2 separate regions of the Homo sapiens genome follow, and region 2 is linked to region 1. Evidence: fine-mapped expression QTL. A gene starts in region 1. The other region holds a variant in brackets. All regions are shown on one strand. Distances are between the middles of the regions. Region 1 holds the start of VPS11 (VPS11 core subunit of CORVET and HOPS complexes). Region 2 has its middle 1.8 kb from the start of HYOU1-AS1.

Evidence for each region. PIP is the estimated chance that this variant, and not a neighbour inherited with it, causes the effect.
Region 2: its variant is the best candidate, but not a certain one, in a credible set for the expression of VPS11 in whole blood (INTERVAL, PIP 0.55).

What each region holds. Positions count from the first base shown.
Region 1 is chr11:119,066,002-119,068,905 of GRCh38, forward strand. It overlaps VPS11 (VPS11 core subunit of CORVET and HOPS complexes), which reads left to right and starts at 1,817. Exons shown (of 16, transcript NM_021729.6): 1 at 1,817-2,009. The coding sequence starts at 1,823. It overlaps LOC124902769 (a long non-coding RNA gene), which reads right to left and starts at 1,754. Exons shown (of 2, transcript XR_007062917.1): 1 at 1,496-1,754. RefSeq lists enhancers at 1,805-1,854, 1,915-1,964.
Region 2 is chr11:119,040,913-119,043,821 of GRCh38, forward strand. No RefSeq gene overlaps it. Among named protein-coding and RNA genes, the nearest start is that of HYOU1-AS1, 1.8 kb to the right of the region's middle. The variant G/C (reference allele first, on the strand shown) is at 1,360.

The DNA of each region.
Region 1 (2,904 bases):
TGGAAGTCAGGAAATCTGTGTGCATGGTGGTGGCTAGAGTTTCTTCCTATCATTTACCTCTTCAGACAAATGGACGCCACCTGCCCATCAACCAGATTGAGGAGAGGAGTGGATAAGAGGAGAGGCATCCACACCACATTCATTCCTTCAACCAAACATGGAACTTCTACCAGGCTCTGCTAGGCCTCGTTCACAGTTACGGTACAAGATGTAGCCCCCGCTCTCAGGGAACTCTGGCTGGTGGAAATACAGCATCAAATATTCTGAAATAAGTTGGGGGAGGGCCGGGTGCGGTGGCTCACGCCTGTAATTCCAGTACTTGGGAGGCCGAGGCGGGTGGATCACCCGAGGTCAGGAGTTCGAGACCAGCCTGGCCAAAATGGCAAAACCCCAACTCTACTAAAAATACAAAAATTAGCCAGGCGTGGTGGCAGGCAGCTGTAATCCCAGCTACTCAGGAGGCTGAGGCATAAGAATCGCTTGAACTCGGGAGGCGGAGGTTGCAGTCAGCTGAGATTGTGCCACTGCGCTTCAGCCTGGGGGATAGAGAGAGACTCTGTCTAAAAAAAAAAAAAAAAAAAAAGAAAAAAGAAAAAAAAGGAAGTTGGGGGAGTGCAAACAATAAACTTCACAAATACCACAGGGTCACTTTTCCATATGTCCCTACCATCTCAAAATGATGCTATGTCACTTCTGTCTATAGGTTCTCATGGCACACAAACAGTAAACCTGCAGTAGTTGTCCATGAGGATAGATCTTGCTTGGATTCAAAGATGGTTTAGCCAGAGTTGGGAGTGGAGAATGATCATGTAATATCTTGGACACCTGCCACTTCTCATTAAAACACTCAGCTCTCAAAGCTGCCACTTCCAGGTTTTTGCTCAGTTCTATGTCCCCTACCCTGCCACTATGAAAGGGGGAGAAAGCCCAGGGCCTTGGGAATTCCTGCCCCACCAGTATTTCCCAGTTTCCTTTTTTTTTTTTTGAGACAAGGTCTTGCTCTGTCGCCCATGCTGGAGTGCAGCGGCTCGATCACAGCTCACTGCAGCTTCCAACTCCGGGGCTCAATCGATCCTCCCACTTCAGCCTCCCAAGTAGCTGGGACCACAGGTGTCCACCACCATGCCAGGCTCATTTTTGTATTTTTTGTAGAGATGGGGTTTCACCATGTTGCCCAGGCTGGTCTCGAACACCTGGGCTCAAGTGATTCCCCCACCTCGGCCTCCCAAAGTGCTGGGATTACAGACAGGCATGAGCCATCGCGCCCAGCCCGTTTCCTTAAGAAACGTTTTGAGCGTCTGTTAGGTGTCATACGCTCTGACGGGGGAAACAAAAACGAATATAAAACATTGACTATGGTTCACAATCTGCGTGGTGGCAGACACAAACTTCTAATTTTATTTCTCCTCTCATACAGCCGAAAACCTGGTTTAACATACACTGTTTCATTTATGCCCCAAAACAGTCCTGTGAGGTCAAAACGTCATTCACTTACGCACGGCGGGTGACAGTTCACAAGGCACATGACATCCCTCATCTTGATCTCCCGGTATCCGCGCATTTTAGGAAGAAACATGCTCAAAGGGATGAAGGGTCCGCTCTCAAGCATTTTAGCTAGCGAAGTTACAGTCACATCCGGCAAACTCGCACACTGCAGATCTAGGACTACCCCGCGCGGCCCCGCCCACTTTCCCAGCAGCGGGACGCTGTCACCCCGACTCAGGAGCTCCTGGGCCCGCGGGCTCCCGGAAGCTGCCGACCACGTGATTCGCTGGCTCAGCTCACGTGACAAAGCTCCCGGAGGTGGGAGCCCTGGGCCAAAATGGCGGCCTACCTGCAGTGGCGGCGCTTCGTTTTCTTCGACAAGGAGCTGGTGAAGGAGCCGCTGAGCAATGATGGGGCCGCTCCCGGGGCCACACCTGCTTCTGGATCCGCTGCTTCCAAGTTCCTTTGCCTCCCTCCTGGCATCACTGTCTGCGACTCAGGCCGAGGGAGCCTGGTCTTTGGAGATATCCTTCGTTTGGAGCTGTCTTTTCCCTCCCGGGATCCCGAAGAGATCGAGTTAGGATGAAATCTGTTTGTCGGAGGGGTCCGTGCCGCGCGCCTCTTTGGTTTAGCTGGTCATCCAGAGTTGTTCTGTGGTCTACGGGAAGAAAGAAGGAAGTCCATCTCCTAACTTGTTATCAACTGAGCAATCCTGGGCAAGTCATTTAACCTCTCTGGGTTTTAATTTCCTTATCTGTAGGAGATGTGTGCATGCCAATTTGACGAGGTTAATTTGAGATCAATAAGAAAAAGAATGCAAGTTGGCTTTAAAAGATGAATATGTAAAGTGACATGATTTCCCCTGCCCTAATATTATCGTTGGCGAGGAGGTAAATGAGCCTAGCGGTTTGTTGCTTTCATCTTCATGTTGCTGCTACTAAATTCTGGCCTTTTTACCTTTTTTTTTTTTTTTTTTTTTTTGATACGGAGTCTTACTCTGTTGCCCAGGCTGGAGTGCAGTGGCGGGATCTGGGCTCACTGTAACCGTCTCTTGAGTTCAAGCGATTCTCCTGCCACAGCCTCCCGAGTAGCTGGGACTACAGGCGCTTGCCACCACACCCGGCTAATTTTTTACATTTTCAGTAGAGACGGGGTTTCACCATATTGGCCAGGCTGGTCTCGAACTCCTGACCTCGTGATCCACCCGCCTCGGCCTCCCAAAGTGCTGGGATTACAGGAGTGAGCCATCGCGCCCGGCGCACTAAATTTTTTTCTTTTTTTTGAGACGGACTTTCACTCTTGTTGCACAGGCTGGAGTGCAATGGCATGATCTGGGCACACTGCAACCTCCGCCTCCCGGGTTCAAGCAATTCTCCTGCCTCAACCTCCTGAGTAGCTGAAATTACAGGCACGCACCAT
Region 2 (2,909 bases), 25 kb before region 1:
TGATCCGCCCGCCTCGGCCTCCCAAAGTGCTGGGATTACAGGTGTGAGCCACTGCGCCCGGCCGGGCCTGGCTATTTTTTATTTTTATTTTTGAGGCAGAGTCTCGCTCTGTTGCCCAGGCTGGAGTGCAGTGGCATGACCTCAGCTCACTGCAACTTCTGCCTCCTGGGTTCAAGTAATTCTCAAGCCTCAGCCTCCTAAGTAGCTGGGACTACGGGCACACACCACCACACCCGGCTAATTTTTTGTATTTTAGTAGACATGGTGTTTCGCCATGTTGCCCAGGGTGGTCTCAAACTTCAGAGCTCAGGCAATCCACTCACCTCGGCTTCCCAAAGTGCTAGGATTACAGATGTGAGCCACCATCCCTGGCCAAAATAAATATTTTAAAAATATTTGGTAGAATTCACCAGTGAAGCCATCTAGTCCCGATTTTTTTTTTTTTTTTTTTTTTTTTTTGAGACGGAGTCTTGCTCTGTTGCCAGGTTGGAGTGCCGTGGCCCAGTCTTGGCGCACTGCAACCTCTGTCTCCTGGGTTCAAGTGATTCTCCTTCCTCGGCCTCCTGAGTAGCTGGGATTACAGGTGCCCACCACCACGCCAAGCTAATTTTTGTATTTTTAGTACAGACAGGGTTTCACTGTGTTAGCCAGGCTAGTCTCAAACTTCTGACCTTGTGATCTGCCTGCCTCAGCCTCCCAAGGTGCTGGGATTACTAGCCCGAGCCACCGTGCCTGCCCCCCACCTCCCCACCCTTTTTTTTTTTGAGACAGAGTTTCGCTCTTGTCGCCCAGGCTGGTCTCAAACTGTTGACTTCAGGTGATCCGCCTGCCTCGGCCGCCCAAAGTGTTGGGATTACAGGCTTGAGGCAAGGCGCGCCGGGCCTTTTTTTTTTTTTTTTGAGTCGGGGTCTCTCCCTCCCAGGCTGCAGTGCAGTGGTGCGATCATAATCTACTGCAGCTTTGAACTCCTAGTTTCAAGTGATCCTCCTGCCTCTGCCTCCTGAGTAGCTAGGACTACTATTTTTTGTAGAGATGAGGTCTGGCTATGTTGTCTCAAACTCCTGGCCTCAAGCGATCCTTCCACTCCTGCCTCCCCAAACACTGGTATTACAGCCATGAGTCACTGCACTTAGCTTCGCCTTTTTTTTTTAGAGCACTTTTAGGTTCACAGCAAAATTGAGGGGAAAATACAGAGTTCCCGTATATTCCCTTCCTCCATACACTCACAGCTTCCCCCATAATAAACACTTCACACCAGAGGTCTACAGGTGTTACATCTGAGGAACCTACACTGACTCATCATATTTGCCCAAAGTCTACACTTTCAGTTGTCTTGGTGTTGCACATTCTATAGGTTTT[G/C]ACAAATGTATATGTACCCACCATTATGGTGTCATACAGAACTTTGGGTGATTGTAACAAATGTACCACTCTGGGGGAGATTGAGTATGTGGGGACAGGAGGTATATGGCAACTCTGTACCTCCTGCTCAATTCTGCTGTGAATCTGAAACTGTCTAAAAGTCATCCAAAAAAAAAAAAACAAAAACCCAAAACTTCCACATTCAAAACTTATCTGACTTGTTCAACTTTTAGAGAAAAAAGACAACCCTTCGTGGTTATTTTTTTTGTGTGTGACAGAGTCTAGCTGTCGCCCAGGCTGGAGTGCAGTGGCACGATCTCAGCTCACTGCAACCTCATCCTCCCGGGTTCAATTGATTTTCCTGTCTCAGCCTCCTGAGTAGCTGGGACTACAGGCGGGTGCCACCATGTCCGGCTGATTTTTTGTATTTTTAGTAGAGACGGAGTTTCACTGTGTTAGCCAGGATGGTCTCGGATCTCCTGACCTCATGATCCGCCTGCCTTGGCCTCCCAAAGTGCTAGGACTACAGGCGTGAGCTACTACACCCGGCTGGGCCTTCATGGTTATTAAATGTAAATACAACGGGGCCAAGCTCAGTGGCTCATACCTGTAATCCCAGCACTTTGGGAGGCCAAGGCAAGCAGATCATTTGAGTCCAGGAGTTCAAGACCAGCCTGAGCAACATAGTGAAACCCCGTCTCGACCAGAAAATACAAAAATTAGCCAGGTAGTCCCTGCTACAGGGCTGAGGTGGGAGGATTGCTTGAGCCTGGGAGGTCGCGGCTGCAGTGGGCCAAGATGGCACCATTGCACTCCAGCCTGGGTGACAGAGCAACACCCTGTATACCGTATACAACTGCTTAGATATGTACATGATTAGTGACAAGAGGGATCCTCCCTTGGTAATAGAAAATTTGGGCTAGGCATGCTGCATCCCAAACTGATGAACCGAAACTGCTACAAATGGTCTCTACCAACACATTCCCACGGCTAAGTACGAAGAACAAGGGCGAATGGTCAGAATTAAGCTCAAACCTAGCTGAAGCACTCAACATTGATTCATTCCTTGGACCAATTACTTGCTAAATCTCTATGAACTGGTATCTTATTTGTACAATGAGGTTGCTATTTTAAAAATTAATGTTACCAGCTGGGCCCAGTGGCTCAGGCCTGTAAACCCAGCACTTTGGGAGCCCAAGGCAGGTGGATCGCTTCAGGTCAGTTCCAGACCAGCTTAGCCAACATGGTGAAACCCCGTCTCTACTAAAATACAAAAAAAATTTAGCTGGGTATGGTGGCAGGTGCCTGTAATCCCAGCTACTCAGGAGGCTGGGGCAGTAGAATCACTTGAACCCGGGAGGCGGAGGTTGCAGTGAGCCTGGATCGCATTACTATACTCCAGCCTGGGCAACAGAGCAGGACCCAGTCTCAAAGAAAAAAAAAAAAAAAAAGTACGTTACTTAAAAATGCCTGGGATATAGGAGTCCAAATAATGTTAGCAGTAAAATAAAACCAGTATTTTGTTTCCTTGAAAAAAATACATATACAAA